Regions from separate parts of the Homo sapiens genome. Here region 1 is linked to region 2. Evidence: fine-mapped expression QTL. A gene starts in region 2. The other region holds a variant in brackets. All regions are shown on one strand. Distances are from middle to middle. Region 1 overlaps KMT5B (lysine methyltransferase 5B). Region 2 holds the start of TCIRG1 (T cell immune regulator 1, ATPase H+ transporting V0 subunit a3).

The links. PIP is the estimated chance that this variant, and not a neighbour inherited with it, causes the effect.
Region 1: its variant is fine-mapped to the expression of TCIRG1 in ovary (GTEx, PIP 0.90).

What each region holds. Positions count from the first base shown.
Region 1 is chr11:68,188,255-68,203,919 of GRCh38, forward strand. It overlaps KMT5B (lysine methyltransferase 5B), which reads right to left. Exons shown (of 11, transcript NM_017635.5): 2 at 1,663-1,898. The coding sequence starts at 1,822. Among named protein-coding and RNA genes, the nearest start is that of KMT5B, 17 kb to the right of the region's middle. The variant G/A (reference allele first, on the strand shown) is at 8,971.
Region 2 is chr11:68,033,701-68,042,925 of GRCh38, forward strand. TCIRG1 (T cell immune regulator 1, ATPase H+ transporting V0 subunit a3) reads left to right here and starts at 5,325. Exons shown (of 20, transcript NM_006019.4): 1 at 5,325-5,419; 2 at 7,568-7,688; 3 at 8,053-8,131; 4 at 8,943-9,163. The coding sequence starts at 7,572. It overlaps NDUFS8 (NADH:ubiquinone oxidoreductase core subunit S8), which reads left to right. Exons shown (of 7, transcript NM_002496.4): 6 at 2,553-2,681; 7 at 2,762-2,944. The coding sequence ends at 2,893. It overlaps MIR4691 (microRNA 4691), which reads left to right and starts at 197; the gene lies at 197-281. RefSeq lists an enhancer at 4,684-5,305 and silencers at 5,197-5,376, 5,437-5,516, 7,197-7,326.

The sequences.
Region 1 (15,665 bases), 160 kb after region 2:
ACCTCATGATCCACCCACCTCAGCCTCCCAAAGTGCTGGGATTACAGGCGTGAGCCACCACGCCCGGCCCGTAATGGCCATTTCTAAACTCTTTTTTTTTTTCTTTAAACAAGAGTCTCATTTTTTTTTGCCCATGCTGGAGTGCAGTGGTGTGATCTCGGCTCACTGCAACCTCTAACTCCTGGGCTCAAGTGATCTTTCCAACCACAGCCTCTCAAAGTAGTTGGAACCATAGACATGCAACACCATGATTGGCTAATTTTTTTGTAGACACGGTAGTTTTTGTAGACACAGGGTTTCACCATGTTGCCCAGGCTGGTCTCAAACTCCTGGACTTAAGCAGATCCATTCGCCTTGGACTCCCAAAGTGCCGGGACTACAGGTGTGAGCTACCACGCCCAGACGCATTTTCTAAATTCTTGTGTATCTATAATAATTCAACTAATTAAAACTGTTTTGCACTATGATACACAAAAGGAGGCCAACAGTGATTTCCTAAAAAACTTAAGATATGCCTAGTTTGCTGACCAGAATGAATACACACTGATGTGATCACTATATTTCTCAATTCTTCACGTTCACACTAGCTGCTAAGGAGTGAGGCAGGATGAGGGTACATGCTGCCAGCAGCCTCAGGAGTGAGTGGTGTCCATGCAGAGGACCACTCATTCAGTCTTGCCTCTTCCTACTCTTGTCCCAAGCAGGAATTCTGTCTGGTTTTCTATAGCAACAGTGACCTGATCTGAAATGGAAAGGTTAAGGGTAGCCTGGGCCCAATGAATCGCATAAACCCTAAAAGGTAAGAAGGAAATCTATCAGAACTTGTACAATCTGAAACTACAGAAAATCCCAGGCTAATCCAAATCCCTGGAAACAGGCCAATGCCAATCTGAATTAAGGATATTCAAAGGTGGCTAGATTCACGTTAGAAAAAGAAGAAAAGCTGTCCTCTTTAACATGACATACGTTTGGACATATAGCTGCCTAGTTAGGTATACACTTGTCCTCAGTCATTTTACTACTTTTAGAGGAACTATGAAATACGCACCAAATCTACAACTTCCTGAACTCTCAAAAAGCAGCCTCTTTCCTATCAAGAGGTATAGAGGAAATAAAGTAACTTATCAGCAGTGTTTCACTGTCAGGATGAACAACTGTCTACCCTGTATAAATAGAATAAATTGCTATGATTTGTGAGGCTGCCCTAAAGCAGTCAGTTCTATCTATCCTCATTCTACTTATGTAAATTACAGTTGGCGTCATTATTCATATTATTCCATGAAACATTTGTGGAAATTAGCAAAGAAGTACATACCTATACTTACATCTATTAAAAAAATACAGGTTAACCTGTAAGAAGTTCAATTAAAATTTTAAAAATTTAGTAAGACATATCAACCATTCAGGTAAATTCTACAAAATATAAAGTAACAGACAGAAAAGCATGATTAAAATAATTATATGAAGCATTAAACTTGAGTTTTATATAGTTTGATGAGAATAAAAATTGACACAACTTTGAGAGTAAAAAGACTATATTGTTAATTATGAAAATGCAAAAAATTATTTAAGACAAAAGAAAACAGAATACACATTACAAACTGGAAAGAATTACTACCCCATATCACAATCAGAACATTGAAGGTTTAAGTGTGTACATACATCTGTTCGACCTCCTCTCGACTGCATTTTTGCCAGCCTTCAGGGTGTCCTTCCCCGTGTGCTGTAATTTTGATTGATTCTGCTGATGGTCATTAGACAACTTGCCTCCATTTCTCCTGCCATTCACCACCATGTTCTTGGATTCTCCCAACCACTTCATACCCACAGACAGCCTGACCCAGGTGCATTTAGTCACTCTCTTCAAATAGCTTAGAGAATACTTTCAATGTTCTCTCCTAACAGAAACAAAATATGAAAAACAAAACAAAATGGGGAGATAAATACATGAAAGATCATGCTAAACAGACCCTTGAGAAAGATATATAATATTAAAAGGACAGTCATTCACAGTATAATGATGTTTTGGTCAATGACAGACCACATAAACAACGGTGGTTCCATAAGATTATAACAGAGCTGGACATACACTTCATAAAATTCGTATTGCCTAGTATTTACTATATTATACTTTTTACTGTTATTTTAGAGTATATTCCTTCTACTTTTTTTTAAGTTAACTATAAAACAGCCCCAGGCAGGTTATTCAAGAGATATTCCAGAGGAAGGCACTGTTATCACAGGAGATGACAGCTCCATGCATGCTACTGCCCCTGAAGACGCTCCAGTGGGACAAGATGCAGAGGGAGAAGACAGTGATATGGATAATCCCGACCCTGTGTGGGCTGAAGCTAATGTTTGTGACCTGTGTCTCAGTTTTTAATAAAAAAGTTAAAAAAATAAAAGTAGGAAAAGGTTATAGAATAAAGATATTTTAAAAAGAATATAGCTGAGCACAGTGGCTCATGCCTGTAATCCCAGCACTTTGGGGGGCCATGGCAGGCGGACTGCTTGAGCCCAGAAGTTGAGACCAGCCTGGGCAACATGGCAAGACCCTGCCTCTACAGAAAATAAAAAAGTGAGCCAGGCATAGTGGCATGAGCCTGTGGTTCCAGCTACTTGAGAGGCTGAGATGGGAGGTCAAGCCTGCAGTGAAGCTATGATTGCAACACTGTACTCCAGCCTGGGTGACAGAGCAACCCTGTCTTCCAAAAAAGAAAAGAAAATAATAATATATTTTTGTGTCTTTTTGTCTGTGTTTTGAGACAGTCTCACTCTATGGCCCAGGCTGGAGTGCAGTGGTGTGATTATGGCTCACTGCAACCTCAAATTCCAGGGCTCAACCAATCCTCCCACTCAGCCTCCCAAGTAGCTGGGACTAGAGGCAGGAGCCACCACATCCAGTTAATTTTAAAACTTTGTGTGTGTGTGTGTGTGTGTGTGTGTGTGTGTGTAGAGACGAGGTCTCACTATGTTGCCCAGACTGGTCTCAAACTCCTGGCCTCAAGCAATCCCTCCACCTTGGCCTCCAAAAGTGCTGGGATTACAGGCATGAGCCACTGTGCCTGGCTAAGAAAGAATATACATTCATTTATTTGAGACAGGGCCTTGCTCTGTCGCCCCGGCTAGAGTGCAGTGGTGCCATCTCTTCTCATTGCAACCTCCACCTCCCAGGTTCAAATGATTCTCCTGCCTCAGTCTCCTGAGTAGGTGGGATTACAGGCGTGCACCACCACACCCAGCTAATTTTTGTATTTTTAGTAGAGACAGGGTTTTACCATGTTGGCTAGGCTGGTCTCGAACTCCCAACCTCAAGTGATCCACCTGCCTTGGCCTCCGAAAGTGCTGGGATTATAGGCGTGAGCCACTGTATGTGGCCAGAATGTATTTTTGTATAGCTATATGTGTTTGTATTTTAAGCCAAGTATTACCATAAAAGAGTCAAAAAGTTTTTAGAAAAAAAAACTTTATAAAGTAAAACAGTTACAAGCTAAGGTTAATTATTGAAGAAACATTTCAAAATAAATTTAGCGTAGCCTAAGTGTACGGTGTTAATAAAGTCTACAATAGTATACATGTACTAGGTCTACGCAATTACTCACCACTCACTCACTGACTCATCCAGAGCAACTTCAAATCCTGCAAGTTCCATTCATGGGAAGTGCCCTTCACAGGTGTACCATTTTAAAATCTTTTATTCTGTATTTTTACTGTATCTTTATGTTTATATATGTTTAGATAACAAATAATATTGTGTTACCAGTGACTACAGTAGTCAGTACAGTAACAAGCTGTACAGGTTAGTGGCCTAGGAGCAATGGCCCAGGTGTGTAGTAGGCTAGACTACCTAGGTTTGTGTAAGTACACTCTATGACAACTGCATGACAACAAAACCACCTAACCTCACATTTCTAGAATGTGTCCGAGACACACTCTATGAGTGCACTCTATGATATCTGCACGATAACAAAATCACCTAAACTCACATTTCTCAGAATGTGTGGTATCCCTGTCATTAAGCAATGCATGACTATACTTTAATAACTGATGTCTCCACTCTTTAAAGACAATCTTGGCTCTCCCCAATCATATGATGCCTGCTCAGGAATACAGTGCCCCCAGACTGGCCAGAATGTAAACTACAGAAGGCAGGGACTCATTCTGACTTGTTCCTTGCTTGTGTTTAGAACAGTACTGACAAACAGCAGGTGCTCAACAAATATTTCTCTCAGTAAACAGTAAGAACCATCTTTGCTCCTTGTTATACTGATATCTAGTAGAGCTTTCTCATCTATCTGCTCAAACTACATGTTTTGGTAATGCTCTGAACTGGGTGAGTAAACTACAAGGAAGTTATTTATCTCTTTGTTCCAAGGCAAGCTTAGGAAAAGGCATCTATACTAAGCTTTGTCCATCACAGTAAGAGACTCCTAACTGTTGTGCTGGCTACTCATCACCACAAACAAAATTTAGCAGAGGGACAAGAGTAAGGAAAGTAAAGGACTTCATATCTCTTTGTTGTTGTTAGTTTCAATTCACTGTTCTAGATATTTAAGAAACCAATATTCAGATATCAAAGTAGTGCCCATCTGGAAATGTCTACCTTATCATTCCTTCACAATGGCAACAAAACTGAGAAGCTACTGTATTCGGTAATGTAAATGTATCTCTTACTATCTGAATTTGGGAACCGATTGATCTGAATAGTGGGGGATGCTTGTAATTTATAATGACCTTTGGAAATGAGGATATTATACATCACACTCACTACTAATGGAATGAGAAAAAGGATGTCCATGATACCACCTCATTATCGAATTATGCATTAGTACAAGTCAGACTAAAAAGGCCCTACGATAAAGGGCAAAAATACAGAACTTCAGAGCCAAAGATGCCTTAAGATCATCAGTGCAACTCCTTCAATTTGCAAATGAAACTGAGGCCACATGCCTAAAACCACATGATCCACCTGCAGCAGTCTCACGAGTAGAACCCAGCACTGCTGCCCAACAAATTCTCAACTACACCAGACGCAGGTCAATTTCCTTTCCACAAACACATAGAAAAGTACAAATGATAAATTACTTCGAAGTATTCACAAAAATACATGCCTGGACATACCTTTAATGATACTCAACACAAACACAAAACATGAATTTTTACTTGATCTCAGGTCTCTTTCATGTTACAGGAGTATCTGTGTGAGTTCACTGGAGGGTAAGATGTGCATGTGAGCAGTATGCTTAGGGGAATGGCAAAAAAAAAAAATCTGATCAATGCTAAAGACAACTTTACAATTGTTTTCTAACATGAATTTTTTTTCTGGTTCCCTTACTATTTAAATTCGATTATAGTATTTAACTTTTAACGTGCCTTTTGATTTTTCTCATAGGTTTCACTAAACAGTCTTCTATCTATTCTACATCAGTTATAAGCTAAGGATTTTTCAATTATTAAATTTTACCAAATTTAACATTAAAACCTCTCATTAATGATCATATATCTTACACTTAGGAGAAAAGGCATAGAATTGAACAGCAGTATACTTTTTTTTTTTTTTTTAAGAGACAGGGTCTTGCTCTGTCACCCAGGTTGGAGTGCAGTGGTGTGATGATGGCTCACTGTGGCCTCAAAGTCCTAGGCTCAAGCAATCCTCCACCTCAGCCTCCCAAAGTGTTAGGATTACCAGCATGAGCCACCACACTCAGTAAGAGCAGTGTACTTTTGAGGTATAAAGTACAAAGAAAGCTTGAGAAAAAGAGCAATGGGTGGTCCATTGGGAGCCTTGGATCTTGGATCCCCAGCAGTTTTGCCTATGGACTCTAAAATGGACTTCATTTAAAGAAACCCATGGAACAGTAATAGATAAAAACATAAAACAATATGAATTGTGGCATTCAAATCCTAGCACTTCGGGAGAGCATCAAGTACCAAGTTTTTTTTTTTTTTTTTTTGAGACAGAGTATCGCTCCCTCACCCAGGCTGGAGTGCAGTGTCCACGATCTTGGCTCACTGCAACCTCCACCTCCCAGGTTCAAGCTATTCTCATGCCTCAGCCTCCTAAGTAGCTGGAATTACAGGTGTGCACCACCATGCCCGCCTAATTTTTGTATTTTTTAGTAGAGACAGAGTTTCACCATGTTGGCCAGGCTAGTCTTGAACTCCTGGCCACAAGCGATCCTCCCACCTCGGCCTCCCAAAGTGCTACGATTACAGGCATGAGCCATTGTGCCCGGCCAAGTGTTCAAAAATTATAGCCTACTATCACAATGCATTGAAGATTTGAATTTCAATAACCTCGTCAAGACTTAGATCTTTAAAAGCTTCAAGGTTCATCTGCATTAAAGCTCTCCATCATTGAGCCATCTCACAAAAGTAAAAGCTTAAAGGGACTAAAATCCGTGACTACATTCCATTTTATATCCCTTCCTCAGTTTTCTTCAATTTCCTTGACCCCTAGGGTCTTTCATATTACTTATGTTCCTTTAAGACAAGAGCCAAAGAAACAGCACTTTCTGAAAAACAGATGTTCTGTGGCTATAAGCTTTCATTGGTACAGATGCATAAACTTGGCATGATAAATTTAGAATTAGGTTTTTTGTTGTATCCTATAAAAAGCTGCATTAACAACAAGCAAATGGGCCAGGTGGTGGCTTATGCCTATAATCCTAGCCCTCTGGGAGACCAAGGCAAGAGGACTGCTTGAGGCCAGGAGTTCGAGACCAGCCTGGGCAACACGGCAAGACCTCATTGCTACTAAAAATAAAAATTAAAAAATTAGCCAAGGATGGTGGTATGCACCTGTAGTTACACTCAGGAGGCTGAAGTGGGAGGATGGCTGCAGCCCAGGAAATTGCGGACACAGTGAGCCATGACCATGCCATTACACTGCAGCCTGGGTGACAGAGTGAAAAAAAAGAAAATGATGAAGTGGTAAATTTATATAAATGTATTTTATATTTCAAGTTAGATTATACTCTCAGAAGCTATGTGGTTTACAGAAAATAGCCCTCTCCTATCCCACCTCTGTCTCTTACTAGGCAGTTGGTAACCAACAAAGTCACTTAACCTCTCTGAACCTTAACTTCCATTATCCAGAAAGTGAAGCTGATCATATTTTCCCCATCCACCTCACAGGGCTGTTGTGAGGATCACATGAAATAATGTACCTAAAAAAGTTGTTTCTATAAAAGGTACAACACAGATAGATCCAGGGTCCTGTTACATAGTTGCAAGTCACACTCTTATCTCCAGGGCCTGGGAAGGTAGGTGATTTAAGCACACAGAAAGCACCTACCATGTCCAGGGCACATACATGGTAACAAGATTATGTTATTTTCCTCTGAATACACAGAATACTACCATGGGCTAATTCTAAGGAGCAAGACTGTAACTTTCCCTAAAATTATAGCTCAGCATTCATAGTGCTCTAGGGCAATTATGGGTTGTAACATATTAATGGTTTGCAACATTTTTTTTACTATGTTGTGACCAGTAATTTTTTTTAAATGAAAGAACACAGAGCAGAATATTTCACAATGCATCCCACATAGTAAGTTTTGTTTTAGTTATATATGTGTAAATGTGTGTATACTTGGTCATTAAATAAAATGAATTTTTGGCCAGGTGTGGTGGCTCATGCCTGTAATCCCAACACTTTGGGAGGCCCAGGTGGGCAGATCACTTGAATCCAGGAGTTTGAGACCAGCCTCGCCAACATGGTGAAACCCCGTCTCTACCAAAAATACAAAAATTAGCTAGGTGTGGTGGTATGCGCCTGTAATCCCAGCTACTCAGGAGGCTGAAGCAGGAGGATCACTTGAGCCCAGGAGATGGAGGGTGAAGTGAGCCAAGACTGCACCACTGGACTCCAGCCTGAGTGACAGAGCAAGACCCTGTCTAAAATAAAATAAAATAAAATGCATTTTTTTCCTGGGGGTGTGGGGAAGGGCAATGCACCATGCCTTTCTCCTCTGTCTGCCTGGAATGTTATAACACCATCTCTTTGCCTAATTCCTTAAGTCCCAGTTCAGTGTTCACATCCTCTAGGAAGTGTTCCTTGACATTCACTGCCAAATCTAGTTATATACTTATGCTATAAAACTTAAGTGAAAGCCCTTATGTGACTATATTGTTTAAGTGTCTGCTTCCTTAATTGAGAGTTCCTAAGGTTGAGAATCTATTTTTCTTATCTCTGGCCCTTGTGTATCTAGTATAGCACACAGTACATCCTAGAGGCACTCAACTGATGAAATAAATAGGTTGTATTCTAAACTGCATCATAGAAACTATATTTCTGCATTAAAAAAAACTGTAAATTAAAGATACTTCCTGACCTCTTCAAATCCTCTCCTTTCTCAAAATGTCCATGGTGTGTAAGGGGGTGAGAGAAGCTCCTGCACAGACAGAAACAAGGCAGGAATCACAGCTGCTACCACCACTAACTTCCCTACTGCTTGCCATTATACTTTCTGGTTTACTCCCTAGTCCTTGACCCTCCAGAGAAAAAGAACCAGGACCAGGAAAAGTGCTTTTGGTCCTTTAGGAAATCATCTGTAGAATGCCTGTGTTTAACACACAACTTATGGATAATCATGGAACAATGTACTTTTAGGCTTCTCAGGAGTCCTAATATACCTCAAAAATAAGACATAAAGCATAATTATATGAAATAGAAATAAAATATATGGAATAGAAAGGTTATCCATGGAGAGTCTTTTTTTTTTTCTTTTTTTGAGACGGAGTCTCGCACTGTCCCCAAGTTAGAGTGCAGTGGCCCAAACTCGGCTCACTACAACCTCTGCTTCCTGGGTTCAAGCGATTCTCCTGACTCAGCCTCCCGAGTAGCTAGGACTACAGGTGCGCACCACCACACCTGGCTAATTTTTTTTTGCTATTTTAGTAGACACGGGGTTTCACCATGTTGGCCAGGATAGTCTCGATCTCCTGACCTCATGATCTGCCTGTCTC[G/A]GCCTCCCAAAGTGCTGGAATTACAGGCGTGAGCCACCACGCCCGGCCATGGAAAGTCTTTAAGTCCCAACCAAGATGTCTACTTGAGAGAAAGCAGAAAATTTGGGGATGAGGCCCAGCAATCTGTGTTGTAGTAAGACCTCCAGGTGATGCAAGCTCCAGTGTAAGAGCAATCGCTCTAATTTACTTATTCATTTTATCATGTTAGGGCAAAGAATAGATACAAAATTTTAAGAAAAATTATGGAATAAAAAATTAAGGAAATTATAATATCAACCAAACATTTTTCTGAGAATTAGGAAAATTCACCAACAAATCACTTTAGTAATAGCAAACTTTGGTTCAATTCATGGAACACAGACTGAGATCCACTCTAATGTGCACATAATTTAAATTAAATGTGGGTTAATGATCCAAACTGGAAAAAATCTGTGCCCTCAGATCTCATTTATATTGTGATCAACTGATATTATTTGAACTCAAGGTAATTTAATCTAACAGGTACTTCTGTCAATCACAGAACATGGCTAAATTTCACTAGTATGAATGCACTGCACATGTCTGGATGTAGCCTAGCAGAGAGAGATTCTCCACAGGTCCATATGATAAAAGCTATCAAAAGATCTTTCTTAAACTGATAAATGAAACATTTGTAAAAACAATTCTAATGAAGCTATCAATAATTTGGGGGCTATTTAAAAAAATTTTCAGCTCAAAATGAATATATATTGTACTAATGATCAGGTCATCATTTGTTCTGCCCTCCTAAGTGTGGAATCTGTTCTTGCTGGCATGATCTTTCCTCTAAGACCACACGTTTACACATTAAAGGTAGCGATGGGATTTTAAAAAGCTAACACAAGTCGATACTGTAGTAGAGTATAGACAAATAGGGGTTGAAAACATCCCAGCACTTTGGGAGGCCAAGGCGGGCAGATCACCTGAGGTCAGGAGTTCGAGACCAGCCTGGACAACAAGGTGAAACCCCATCCCTGCTAAAAATACAAAAATTAGCCAGGCGTGGTGTCACATGCCTGTAATCCCAGCTACTTGGGAGGCTGAGGCAGGAGAATAGCTTCAACCCAGGAGGCAGAGGTTGCACTGAGCCAAGATTGTGCCACTGCACTCCATCCAGCCTGGGCGACACAGCAAGACTGTGAAAAGAAAAGAAGAGAAAAGAAGAGGAAAGAAGATGAAGGAAAGGAAAGGAAAAAAGACAAGACAAGACAAGACAAGACAAGACAAGACAAGACAAGACAAGACAAGACAAGACAGGGCGGCTAGCAAAGCCTAAATGCTTCATAGCTACCACAGAGGTGCCCCCTCCCAACAAACACACAAGGGTGCAGACTCCCATGGGACATAGCTGGCTCACGTGGAAATGTCCCCATGGTCACGGTTTGGCTGACACACTCTGAGCTAATTAGCCACTGACTACATTTAGAAGTAAAAATTGCCTCAATTTTGTCCCAAATTGTTAGGAAAAACATTTCAAGAAAGTACTGACTGCTTCTTTTTTTTTTGAGACGGAGTCTCGCTCTGTTGCCCAGGCTGGAGTGCAGTGGCACGATCTTGGCTCACTGCAACCTCCGCTTCCCGGGTTCAAGCCATTCTCCTGCCTCAACCTCCTGAGTAGCTGGAACTGCAGATGCACGCCATCACACCCGGCTGATTTTTTGTATTTCTAGTAAAGATGGGGTTTCACCGTGTTAGCCAGGCTGGTCTCAATCTCCTGACCTTGTGATCTGCCCGCCTTGGCCTCCCATAGTGCTGGGATTACAGGCGTGAGCCACCACGCCCGGCCATTACTGACCACTTCTTAAATGGTGTATTAGCTTGGTGCAAAAGTAATAAAGTAATTGCGTTGTTTTTTTTTTAGTTACAAATCCTGTTCTGATTTCCCAATATAAAAATGTCAGGAAAATTAGACATCCACTATATTCCAGACACTGTTGCAGGCACTGAGAATACAGCATGGAACAAAATAAGGCTTCTGCCCTCATCTGTGCTTATATTCTAATGGAAAAAAGCACTAGGAAATAATAAATTAACGAATGAATGTCGGCACCTTTTGGGGGGAATAAGCCATTTATGGTGGCAGGGAGTGTTTCAGGTGGAGAAGGAGGGTGATAGTGGCTGTTTTCTAAGACAGCAAGGGATGTGAAGGGACAGCCAGGCATCAGGCAAGAAGCATGCAGTAGACAAAGGGAAGGGCAAACACAAGGCCCAGAGGCTGGCGTGGCTGGGGCAAATATGGAGGAAGAGTGGGAGGATGAGGTCAGAGAGGCTGCCACAGGGAAGAAGGGCTTCAAAGCCACTGCTGAGACTTGGGCCTTTACTCCCAGTGAGAGGGAAAGCAGAGGAGTGACACGATCCAACCCACAGTTTTAAAGGACCATGCTGGCAGCTTGCTACATGGTACTTTAAAAAAGCAGTTCTAATGAAGCTACTAATAATTTCTAGGACAAGAGAATGCAGGGAGACGTTATTAGTAGTAGTAGTCTATTTACTAACTGACTACTGCTAGCCAGAGGAGAACTAGTGGCTGCAGCAGCAGAGGTGGCAAGAAGTGGTTGGCTTCGAGATCTTTTCTGAAGGTTCCGCTGATAGTCGGGAACTGCTGACAGATTGAATGCAGGTGTAGGAGAAAGAGGACTCAAAAATACCTGCAAATGAAGAATGGAATTAATATTTAGGGATGTGACAAAGACTATAGGAAGATTGGCTTCCGCAAGGACTGCGGTGTGGGAATTTGGTTTTGGTCATTTTTTCTTCCTTTTTGGGGGTCTTTTTTGGTTTTAGTCACTTTTGAGATGCCCACTACAGATCCAACTGGAGTTGGCAGCTGGATACCAGGGTCTGGAGTCCAGCTCCAAGCTGAAGATAAAAATCTGGTATTTTTATCTTCAAATAAAATCAAAGTATTAATGGCATTTCAAGCCATGGAATCAGATGAAATCTAGGACTCAGTGCAGATCAATGAAGTCCAAGGACTGGGTGTCGGGGGCACTTTAACATGTATAGGTCAAGAGGAGGAGAAGCAGCACAGGATCACAAAAGGAGCAACAAGTGAGAAGCAGAGCCAGGCATGACAGGGACCACTCTGTGGAGGGAGTTACCAACTCAGGCAAGGACTATAGGTGCCCAGTAAGCAAATACTTTTATTTTATGAGTCTAAACTCGTGGAAAGGATGGGCTATTGCTGATCTGTGAGCCTTGCTCAGAAACAACAGAGAACTTCTAAATGGACACAATGTCTTAAAACACGCACTTGTGAGGAAGACGGGGCTTTGCTTTAAGAAACAGATGGCAGAGGGCAATATCAGGAACGAGAGAGAGAGAGACTGACTCGCAGGCCAGAAAAGACAAATGTAAGTTAAAATTATGGAGTGGGAGGTGATGGGAATAGGTTAGTTAATTTGAGAAGGCAAGCCTTCAGAGCGCTTATAGGATCTGTGTTAAAAAAATTTTTTTAAACTAATAGATTGGTTAAATCTCTGGATGGGAGTAATACAGATGATCTGAGTAGGAAAACGAAGTGGAATTCCTGAGGACTACTGTGCAAGGCTTTGTGCCTTCTACTTTCGTGAGTATTCACAGAAATGATGCAATCAGGCTCTGAGAAAATGGAATTGGGATTCTGCTCCAAGATGGGCAGCATCACTTCCCCAAGGGATTTACCCAGCACTGAAATCAACAGGAAGAGTCACCTTATGTGGTTTCACTGGATCAACACATGGGAAAAGAAGCACTTACTACAGATTCTGGTACCAAACATAAATAAGGAGGTGGGGGGTGAGGGGACAATTTATGATCAAGATAAAACATACTGGAAAACTGCTAAAATAAGAAATGTATTTAAAGGGGAAAAGATTTCAAGAATGATTTCCAGTTGTATTTAAAGCGGAAACTCCTAATCATAACACGATGCCACTAAGGTGAGAAGCGCGACACCCACCACCACCAGCACCACCACAATGCATTCCAAATCACCAGTGCTACCGTTGCTGGGGGGAAGGATAACTTTCAAAAGTATTTTTTCCCCAAACGTTTACAGTGAACCTATTTACTTATAATCAGAAAAAAACTGAAAACCTTAATACTTTAACACATTTCAAAAGAAAGCAGCATTGATTCATAGAAAATGGGCTACGTTCACATAACCATGCCTGTTCTATGCCAGTGATGGCCCCTCAACAAATGTCAATGCCCTTCTCTTTCCAGGCTCTTTATGAGATTATAAATTGTTGAGTGACTTTTGAGAAATTGTGTCCAATTTGAGAACTCTGATTCCAATCCATTTTTACTTAAACACAGGCATTTTTTGCTTAATATCCTAAAAACAAACTAAGATTAAAAAAAAAATCTGTCAAAAAAGTTAAAACACTGATTCTGAATGACTAGAAAGAATGTTAACGTAATTCCTGTGACATTACCGAGAACCCTCTAGCCAGTTGACATGCTGAACTTGTCTGCAAACAGTTTATCTTAGAGAAATTATCCAGTGGCAGGGAAACAATCCCCAAGTGGTTGAAAAAGAAAAGTCAATACACATTTTTAAAAAGTAGGTTCTGGCTGGGTGTGGTGGCTCACGCCTGTAATCCCAACACTTAGGGAGGCCGAAGCAGGTGGATTCCTTGAGCCCAGGAGTTCAAGACCAGCCTGGGCAACATGGTCAGACCCCAGTCTCTACCAAAAAAAAAAAAAAAAAAAAATTAGTCGGGTGTGGTGGTGCGTGCTTGTAGTCCCAGGTACTCAGGAGGCTGAGGTGGGAGGATGGCTTGAGTCCAGGAGATTGCACCACTGCACTCTAGCCTAGGTGATAGAGCAAGACTCTGTCTCAAAGAAATAATAAAAAGCAGGTTCTAGCCTGTTAGAGGACTTTCATAAATCTTTATTTAGAAAGGCAAAGAAAACATTTTTCAAGTGATTTAGTTATAATTTGGTAAGAAAACAATCCAGTACACCACTGGTTAACAGTGAGTGAGATTACAATGGAGAATGACATCACAAGCAATATTTACCTGCTACATGTTCAACTTTTCAAAATAAACATCTGTGACTTTTGTAACAAAATATTAAAGATACTTACACAAAGGAAAGGGAAACAGCTTGGCAGCTTCCCACCACAGGGCCTTTGCACTTGGGGTGCCGCCACACTGCTCCTCAGTCCCTGCCCAACCCCACTTCTCCAGCTATATAGATTTCCTTGTTATACATTTTAACCCTTAACGTTTCTCAGCATGGTGCTTATTACAACCATACTCACTACTCTGTGTAATTATCTGGTAACACCTGCCTTCCCTACTAGCTAAGACACACTTTTTTTTTTTTTTTTTTTTGAGACAAACTCTCACTCTGTTGCCCAGGCTGGAGTGCAGTGGCTCAATCTCAGCTCACTGCAACCCCTGCCTCCCGGGTTCAAGCGATTCTCCTGCCTCAGCCTCCTGAGTAGCTGGGATTACAGGCGCGCACCACTATGCCCGGCTAATTTTTGTATTTTTAGTAGACACGGGGTTTCACCATGTTGGTTGGGCTGGTCTTGAACTCTTGACCTCGTGATTTGCCCACCTCGGCCTCCCAAAGTACTGGGATTACAGGCGTAAGCCACTGCACCTGGCTTTATTTCCATGTTTTGGCCGAATAATCCTGCTGTGAACGTGGGTGTACAAAATACCTGTTTGAGTACCCGCTTTAATTCTTTTGACGATATACCCAGAAGTAGAATTGCCGGGTCATATGGTAATTCTATGCTAAACTTTTTCTTTTTAGATGGAGTCTTGCTCTGTCACCCAGGCTGTAGTGCAGTGGCACGATCTCAGCTCACTGCAACCTCCGCCTCCTGGGTTCCAGGGATTCTCCTGCCTCAGCCTCCTGAGTAGCTGGGATTACAGGTGTGTGCCATCACACCCAGCTAATTTTTGTATTTTTAGGAGAGACGAGGTTTCACCATGTTGGTCAGGCTGGTCTCGAACTCCTGACCTCGTGATCTGCCTGCCTCGGCCTCCCAAAGTGCTGGGATTACAGGCGTGAGGCACCGCACCCGGCCCCATACACTTTCATATCATTAGAATCCAGCACAAGACCAGACATAGGTCCATTCATATCACCTTCCCTTTCTATTCTCAAACCAACTGCTACACATAAGCAGAATCGGTTTTTAGTTTTCTCCTAAATGTGAAATCACAAAAGGACTTGACATCAAAGAATTCCAAATCGGTCTTTATCAATGGCTATTCCAAAGCCGTCTGCAATCAATATTGCAATAACTAAGGCTCCACGGAATCCTATGGTATCAATCCCAGCGATGAGGCCAATAAAAGAAGCCCTGCAAAGCTATCAGAAGCATTTGTGACCAATATTCCATCATAACACCATTAACACTGCTTGACAGGGCAATTTCTCAGTTGCTAATTTGTTAGAAAACTACCACGAATTCACGTTCATACCTGTAACCTTAAAACTTGCTCCTATAAACATTGTTGTCTCACCTGAGAAGCTAGGTGACTTGTCAGAGTAGTTCAACGGGGTGTTAGTATTATGAAAAGAGAAAGGCCTCAGGGTTTTCATTTCCCTGAATTCACAATTATGCTTCTACCTAAGGCAGAGCCTTTACTTTAAAATTAGAGCTGTCACGCTAATTCAAATGGTAATCAGGTATCTAGAACCATCAACTCCATAGCAAAGAATACGTC
Region 2 (9,225 bases):
TGGGTCTCGTGCTTACCCGTGGGGGCCAGGCCTGCCAGCACGGGAACAATATGACTCGGTCAGAGCTCTGGTCAGACCCCTGTGTGTGCCTGGCAGGAGCCCCGGCAGCCGCCGCCGCTACTTTCTGTGTGCACAGCAACCCCTCCCAGTGTTCTGTGACTCGGGTGGCTCCTGTCCAGATCCTAGTTTGTCCTCTGGAGCACTCCCAGGTCCTCCAGGCCATGAGCTGCGGCCCTGATGTCTCTACTCCAGCCACGGACTGAGAGTGCATAGGAGTGTCCCCAAACAGCAGTCACGATGGTCACAACCTTGGCTTCCAGACAGTGAGTGCTGTCCACAGACAGACCCGGTGCTGTGCCATGTGTGTGACTCACAGCCTCTCCTGTAATCTCCACAACCCCTCGAGGAGGTCGAGGTTATTGTCTCCATCTTTATAAGCACTAAAGGATGAGCCTGCCAGCCACAGGTCCCACTGTGAGTTGTGGACACTACATTTCTGGGATGGGGGCATATGAGAGTCCTTGCCAAGCACATTTGAAGGTTTTCCCAGCCAGCCCCTCCCCCAGCGGGCTACCCAGGAACTGAGAGTTAGGACGTGCCCTTGAGTTTGGGCTGTGCCCCCACTTGCTGTGTAGCTTTGGGGAGCCCCTCAACCTCTCGGAACCTTGTTTTTCTCATCCATCAAATGGAGAGAAGTAGATTTAAGGCACAGGATTGCACCCAACAGTGTAGGCATTCTTGGCGATGTTGCAGGTTCGGCTCCAGACCATCGGGGTAAACTGAGTCACACAGCTGTTTTGGTTTTCCAGTGCATTTAAAAGTTAGATTTAGACCGGGCACAGTGGCTCATGCCTGTAATTCCAGCACTTTGAGAAGCCGAGGTGGGCGGATCACTTGAGGTCAAGAGTTCGAGACCAGCCTGGCCAACATAGTGAAACCCCGTCTCTACTAAAAATAACAAAACTTAGCCGGGCACGTTGGCAGGTCCCTGTAATCTCAGCTACTTGCTAGGCTGAGGCACGATAATCACTTGAACCGGGAGGTGGGGGTTGCAGTGAGCCAAAATTGAAAAAAAAAAAAAAAATTAGGGCCGGTTGCGGTGGCTCACGCCTGTAATCCCAGCACTTTGGGAGGCCAAGGTGGGCGGATCACAAGGTCAGGAATTCAAGACCAGCCTGGCCAACATGTTGAAACCCCGTCTCTAGTAAAAATACAAAAATTAGCCGGGTGTGGGGTTGCACACCTGTAGTCCCAGCTACTCAAGAGGCTGAGGCAGGAGAATTGCTTGAACCTGGGAGGCGGAGGTTGCAGTGAACTATGATTGCACCACCATACTCCATCCTGGGCCACAGAGCAAGACTTCGTCTCAAAAAAAAAAAAAGGATTTACACTGTACTGTAGGCTGCGAAGTGTCTAAAACACAATGTATATACCTTAATTAAAAATACTTTAGGGGCCAGGCACAGTGGCTCACACCTGTAGTCCAAGTGCTTTGGGAGGTCAAGGTGAGGGGATTACTTGAGCCCAGGAGTTTGAGACCAGCCTGGGCAACATGGCAAAACCCCGACTCTACAACAACAACAAAAAATACAAAAAATTAGCCCCTGTAGGCCCAGTTACTTGGGAGGTTGAGGTGGGAGGATCGCTTGAGCCTGGGAGGTTGAGGCTGCAGTGAGCTATGAGCTGCACCACTGTACTCCAGCCTGGGTGACAGGGCAAGACTCTGTCTCAAAAAACAAAAACAACAACAAAAACTTTATTCCTAAAAAGTGCTGACCCAGAGATAAGAAGCAAGCACATGGTTGGTAAAATGACATCAGTGAGCTTGCTTTATGCAGGGTTGCCCCAAACCTTCAATTTGTAAAACTCAAAATATCTGGAAAGCTTGGTGAGGCGAGGCGGGACTGTAACTCAGCACTCACCGCAGGGTGAGACCCTTAGGGCAGCGGGTGCTACACTGAACAAAGCGGTGAACAGCCCCCTCGTGAGAGGGGGTTCTTGGCAGATGACGCCAGCAGCTGACAAACAGGCAAGGCAGGCCGGGCACGGTGGCTCACGCTTGTAATCCCAGCACTTTGGGAGTCCAAGGTAAGCGGATCACAAGGTCAAGAGATCGAGACCATCCTGGTCTACATGGTGAAACCCCATCTCTACTAAAAAATACAAAAATTAGCTGGGCGTGGTGATGCACACTTGTAGTCCCAGCTACTCAGGGGGCTGAGGCAGGAGAATCACTTGAACCGGGAAGGCCGAGGTTGCAGTGAGCCGAGATTGTGCTGCTGCACTCCAGCCTGGCGACAGAGCGAGACTCTATCTCAAAAAAAAAAAAAAAAAAAAAAAAACCAGCAAGGCAGGGACGCCAGCAGGGCACGTGCTGAGGAGACAGGCGCGAGCACCAGAGGTGCAGGGCGGCCTCTTAGCCGGAGTCCAGGAGGCCTTTGAGGGGAGAGGGCTTCTGGCAGACCCCAGGGGTGGGGATGAGCAGTGACAGGGGCCCTGGGGGCTGGGATGTGACAGGGCAGCGTGGCAGTGTCTGGTGGCCCCTCCCGCAGGCCATCACCATCGAGGCTGAGCCAAGAGCTGATGGCAGCCGCCGGACCACCCGCTATGACATCGACATGACCAAGTGCATCTACTGCGGCTTCTGCCAGGAGGCCTGTCCCGTGGATGCCATCGTCGAGGCACGTGAGGCCCCCGGGTGGGAGGGGGCCTGAGGCTCCTCAGCAGGGCCTAACCACCGTCCCTGCACCTCAACCTGCAGGGCCCCAACTTTGAGTTCTCCACGGAGACCCATGAGGAGCTGCTGTACAACAAGGAGAAGTTGCTCAACAACGGGGACAAGTGGGAGGCCGAGATCGCCGCCAACATCCAGGCTGACTACTTGTATCGGTGACGCCCCACCGGCCCGCAGCCCCTGCTGCCCAATAAAACCACTCCGACCCCACGGCCTCTTGTCTTGACTCTGGTGGTCCAGGGTGGGGCCGTTCCCGGCCTGCCTGAGGCCTGTGGTGCCTCCAACTGGACTAGGTCGCCACCTAGTCTTTATGCTCTCTGGAGTCCTGCTGCCCCAGCCCTGCCTTCCTGTAGACTCCAGGGCCCCACCAGGCTCTCATGGCTAGACCACAGGCCGCAGCATCCCTGTCACCCTGCCTCTTCCTGGGCGTCTTCCCCAAGGCCCAGCGATGCCAGAGGTCACCACAGACCTGCCGTTCCCACTCTCCCGGGTGTCCTGGCTGGGGCCTGGGCCTCCTGTCTCCCAAGAGCCATCCACTTGTAAGACGCTTAGGACTTGGAGCCTCCCAAGACCTCAGGCTGAAGAACAGCAAGTGGCAGAAACTCAGGCCGGGGCATCCTTGCTGGGGGTAGGAGGAAGCCTGCTTGGGGTGACAGTCACACGAGGGTGACACAGGCCCTGCTGGCCCTGAGCTGGCCTGCGTCCAGCCACATCCTCTTTCCTGTGTTCCCTACGCCAGGGTGCTGGCCCGGCCACTGCTCACCACTTCCTGCTTTGCTGGCCCAGCGACACGGTGGGGTTTCCCTAGGGCCACACACAAGCCCCTTGCCCATATAATGGCCAAAAGCAGCCCCCCTGAACTTGTGCTAAGTACTGTGGAAGGATTTCACTTCATTTGCAGTGAGGAAACCAGCTCCGAGAGGTGAAAGGGCTTGCTCAGGGCCATGCAGGGCACATCCCATAATAAAACTCAGTTCAGAGACCTTGACCCCCCCCATCTACCATCATTTCCAAAAGTGCTTTTTACAAAGCACTACTTTGTAAAAAGCTACTTCTTCGAAAGAACAAGTTTCCTGGCCCAGTGAGTGTTGGAAATGCTCCAGCTGCTGTGTGCCTGCTGGCAGGTACTGCATGGTAGACATTCAAGGCTCTGAGAAGGCCTGCAGCAAAAACACCAGCCTCTCCCAGCCCATTCCCAGGGAGCTTTTCTCAGGTCTAACACCTGGGCCTCCTTCCTAGACCAGGCATTGCCATCTAATGCCAAAGTGGCCAGGCTCCCGCTTGGGCCCCACAGCCTGTGGCACTGGGGTGAGAAGTAACTGCAGGAGGCGAGGGGAAGCCTGGAGCCCGGGAAGTGTCCACAGGTCTGGCCCGCAGCTCATCTTGGCCACTGATGAAAACAGGTGTTCTTTCCAAAAACAAGGCAGGCGCAGGACTCCTGAAGCACCGCCGGTTTAGCTTTTCCCAGACGTAACCGCCGTCAGAGCGTGGCATGGAGCCTGTAGCTGTGCACTGAATACTTCTATTCCAAGCGGGTCAGTCTTTCCAGCTCACCGCTGGGTTCTTTCCCTTACCGTGGTCTCCCAGGCACTTACTGCTGAGACCCCACTCAGGCTGTCTGGTTGTATCAGGCCCCGACCCTGTCAGAACAGGCCTATGGCGCCCAACCACAAGTCCCCCAATTTTCTGAGGAACCACAGCTGAGCTTGGCTGTGACTCAGTTTCCAGGCCCGGCTCTGGGGCTCCACTTGTCCACCCCTGCCGCAGCCCCACAGGCCTGTGCTCGCTGTGTGGGGCTTAGGGATCACCAGAGCTGAAGGGCCCCTGGCCTCCAGTGGGAATGCCCCAGGCCTGTCCAAAGTGCAGGCAGCTGGACGGTCGTGAGTCCCAGCTTCCAGGCACTAGGACCTGATGACGCCCATGGTGCTGACCTGGAGCAAGGTCACAGTGACACCCCCCTCTACCCCCCGCGGCTGCAGCTGCAGGTGGAGCTGACAGCTGGCCTCTGGCCCCAGGGTATCTCCCAGGGCCTGCTGGGTGCGGGGCGCTGGGCAGAACAAGGCAGCATGGCCTGGCCCTGTGTCCTGCTGCCAGTGAAGCAGGCCCAGAGTGGGGCAGCCACCCACCCAAGGGCCAGAGCGGGGCCTCTCCAGGGTGGTCAAGAGCAGGAAGGTGTAAGCACCGGCGGGTTTCACTGCCGCCCAAGGGAGGGGTCCCGGAGGTGGGGGAGCATCCTGGGGACCCCAAGCCCATGAGCCTGCGAATGTTGGGGTCCCATCAGCCAGAGGCGCACAAGCCTCGAAGTGAGAGGAGAGCAGGGTCTCATCTCCTATCCTGAGCTGGGCCTGAGCGGAGCTGCCCCTGCATCGGGGCCAGCATAGACGCGCGCGGTTGGCAGTGGTCTGTTATCCGCTCCTTTCTCCAGGCCTCCTCTCCGGGATTAAGCGCCTCAGGACCCGTCCGCCAGGCCACAGCCTGGGCTCAACCTCTCCCAGACTTCCTGGACTCCAGTGGAGCCTTGGGCCGGGGGCGGGGCGTCCCTGGCCCCTCCCCGTCGTCCCGCCTGCCCGGAAAGGAGTGAGCGGCGCCTAGTCCCGGGCTGGCGGGAGTGCAGTTCTGAGTCCCGCCCGGCGTGCGCGGAGCGGGGCAGCCAGCAGCGGAGGCGCGGCGCGCAGCACACCCGGGGTGAGTGCCCCTGCCGGGGTCTGCGGAGCCCCAGAATTTCCTGCCCACCCTCTTCCCCCTGCCCCGGGGAGGAGATCCTGGCGCCCCACCCAGTTGGCTCCGTGAATGCAGCTCAGCCCGCCACCCCGCAGGGTGTCAGGCCTTGCGGGGGGCCACGGAGGATCCCCAAGGGAGGAGGAGAAGGATGGGGTGTTTACCAACACAGCCCAGCGTTCCCGGGCCTGGTGTGCGCGGAGCTTTCCCCGCTGCTGCTTCCTTGGAGGGAGGGACCCATTCTACAGATGGGGAAGCTGAGACCACACAACTAGGAAGTGTCAGAGCTGGAGACCAGCTGGGTCATTTGACTCCAGAGCCCACCCCATTTGGAATGGAGGGGGCGCCAGACCCTCTCCTACTGCCTTCCCATCATCTGGAGGGGAGGGCAGAGGTGCAGAGAGACCTGCTGGGTTCCTGGAGGGGCCAGGAAAGGGGCACAGGGTGAGGAGTGGGCTGGAGCCTGGACCCCAGGGCCGCAGGATGGAGGCGTATTCATTTACACCATAAAAGTGGCTGGGTGACCCTGGCTAGAGCGGGGACCAAGGGGGACAGGGGTAGGGGGTGAGCCAGTGGAGCCTCACATGCCAGGCACGGGGGCTGATCACGTCCCCACACCTTTCCCCCCGCCCATTACAGGTTGTTCCCCCACCCCCTGGGAAGTGCTGGAAGGAGCCCGGCCCTCGAGCCCTCGGCATAGTGGCTGTGGGAGCCCTGATGGCCCTGAGCCAGGGGTGACCCCTCCCCAGATCCCCAGAGCTGATTCCCCACACCTCCTTATTTGGCCAGCACAGCCCCAAAGGGAGCCAGGTCAGACACAACCCTCCTCTGAGCTCACCCTTTGTGCTGGGCACATAACATTGGACTTTACCTCTCCAAGTGTCAGTGGAGTCCTGTATGAAACAAAAGCACCGTACCCCCTCCCCAAGGGTTTCTCCCCCCAGGGATTAGTGTGAGGTCGTGTGGATGAAGGGATTCAGTTGAGGCTCTGGTTATTTTTGTCACCTCCCTAGATCCTGTCTCTGTCAGGGGTGCCACGTCCCATTCACCCAAAGAGGAAGTAGAGGCACAGAGAGGGTGAGAGACTTGCCCAAGGTCACACACCCAATCTCAGCCTGGGCTCCAAGTCCCTCTGCCCTGTGGCCGGGCCTGGTCCTTAGGGATGGAACCCAGCCCCGCTGCCCCCTGCCCTGCCCACCTGCAGCCTTGGGCCATCTGCTCAGTGTTCCCTCGTTCCCTCCTTCTCTCCTTTCCCAGGCTGGGGCTGGGGCTGCGTTTCCCTGTTTAGAGTTAAGTAAACCAGACCCAGGGGAGGAAGTGACTGGCTGGGCAGGCGGGGCCCTGACCAGGCCTGTCCCCTCCCCCTAATTTTCGAGCTAAGCAACTGATTCCCACAGAGGGGCCCTGGGCCCTGAGAGCAGTGGCTTTGGAGCTGGAGGGGCCCCAGCATCCAGGGCGGGTTGGAGGTGGCCTGGCACCTGCCCCCACCCCACATCGGCCTTGAGCAAGGCCCCGGGCCCTTCCCCGCCATTCTGTAGTTTCACTTTTGTTGGTTTCAACACCTGGAAGGCTGCGGCTGCTGCCGGGCGGCCCGGGCCTCAGGGGACAGCCCCCCCACAGCAGTGCTCCCTGGCTAGCCCCAGGGTACCCGGTGGAGATGCCCGCTCCTACCACTCAGCACATGCAGCTCCACAGGGAGCAGCGAGGGCTCCAGCCACCCCCGGGGCAGCCCTGGGCCTAAGTGCCTGGGCCAGTGGGGTCCTGTCTAGGGTGACGGCAGCCCGAGAGGAGGGAGGCCAGAGTGAAGGTGGGGGTGGAGCCGGTGTCACTGGGAGACGCTGGAGGTAGGGGCGGGGGTCCCCATGGGCAGAGCAAGCCAGGAGAGAGCTTGAGGTCGGCCTGAGGGTGGGCTTCGGGGTCTCCCAGTCCCACTGCTTACTTTCTGCGTGACCTCAGCACCGCATCAAGCCTGCCCAGGCCTCAGTTTCCACCTCTGTCAGATGGGGGTGGTAACAGCAGCTTCCAGGATTCAGTGAGTGAAGGTGCACAGGTGCCCGTGGTTGGGAACTGTCTGTGGTCTGCCCCTGACTGGCCCCCATCCGTGTCCACCCACAGGACCATGGGCTCCATGTTCCGGAGCGAGGAGGTGGCCCTGGTCCAGCTCTTTCTGCCCACAGCGGCTGCCTACACCTGCGTGAGTCGGCTGGGCGAGCTGGGCCTCGTGGAGTTCAGAGACGTGAGTTGGGTGGGCAGGCGTGGGAAGGGGGCTACTGCCAAGGTTAGCCCGGAGGCCGGTCCAGGATGGGGACTGCCCCCCCTCCGCCATAGGGCCCTGGCCCCATTTGAACCCCAGCGGCCCCTGCCATGGGCACTGCTCATGGGAAGCCCGCAGCTGAGGCCCCTGAGCTGGCTCCTCCCCATACCCTCCTGGGGCATGGGGTCTGGTCTGTGCTCTGATCTGCGTCTTGTGGCTCCCAGGGCACTCCACACCTTTCTGGAGGAGGCAGCTAAGGCCTGGGGAGAGTCAGGCCTGGGCTCTAGGGTGAGGAGCTCCCTGACCCCCTTCCCGGGACACTCACCCCTCCGTGTGGCACCCACAGCTCAACGCCTCGGTGAGCGCCTTCCAGAGACGCTTTGTGGTTGATGTTCGGCGCTGTGAGGAGCTGGAGAAGACCTTCAGTGAGTTGGTCCCAGGCCTACATTCCAGGCAGGCTTCCTGGAGGAGGCATGGGCCAAGTTTGATCTGAAAGGAAGAGTCTGGGTTTGCCAGGTGGAAGGCAGAGAAGGGAGGTATATGCAGGGCCCTGCAGGGCCAAGACAGAGCAGCTGGGATCTGTGAAGTGTGCTTGCGAAGGTGGCTGCCTTGTGTGGGCTGAGCAGAGGGCCTAGGGCAGGGCTGGCTGGGGAGGCCTCGAATACAGCATAAGAGCCCAGGACTTCGTCCTGTGGGCGCCAGGAAGCCACAGGGGTTTCTAAGCAGGGAAGAGGCACAGACAGCTTTCTCCTCTACAGCTGGGCTGGGGTGGGTGGGGCCCAGGATCTAGGGTAGGGTACCCCTAAGGAGCAGGCAAAAGGGACCCCTGCCCTGGGCAACCCCTCTCAGGAGGAGCCTGTGGGGGCACCAAGGCAGGGGCATGGGGCAGGCAGGGTTTTGTGTTTGCTGGTGCAGTTTACAGCTTTTCAATGATCAGGCAGACACAGGACTCACGCCAGCTCCGGTCCCAAGCCCTGCAGCGCAAGGGCCGGCCTGTGGGGAGACCTCAGGCCCTCTTCTGAGTGGTGGCCAAGGGACTGGGGAGGGAGAGTGAGCCCAGACCTGAGCTCAGGGAGGGGAGCACAGCTTCTGGATGAAAGTTTGGCCGGGATTTTCTGGCCACCTCCACCTGGTGAATCCAGCAGCTGGTGGCCGATGGAGTTTGGGGCAGCAGGTGGGGCCCTCAACTGTTGAGACAACCTCAACTGCACCCCACTCCCGTTCCTCTGCGCCCAGCCTTCCTGCAGGAGGAGGTGCGGCGGGCTGGGCTGGTCCTGCCCCCGCCAAAGGGGAGGCTGCCGGCACCCCCACCCCGGGACCTGCTGCGCATCCAGGAGGAGACGGAGCGCCTGGCCCAGGAGCTGCGGGATGTGCGGGGCAACCAGCAGGCCCTGCGGGCCCAGCTGCACCAGCTGCAGCTCCACGCCGCCGTGCTACGCCAGGGCCATGAACCTCAGGTCAGCTCCCACCCAGGCAGGAGACTGGGGGGCTGGGGAGGGGCTGTCCAGCCTAGGGCTCA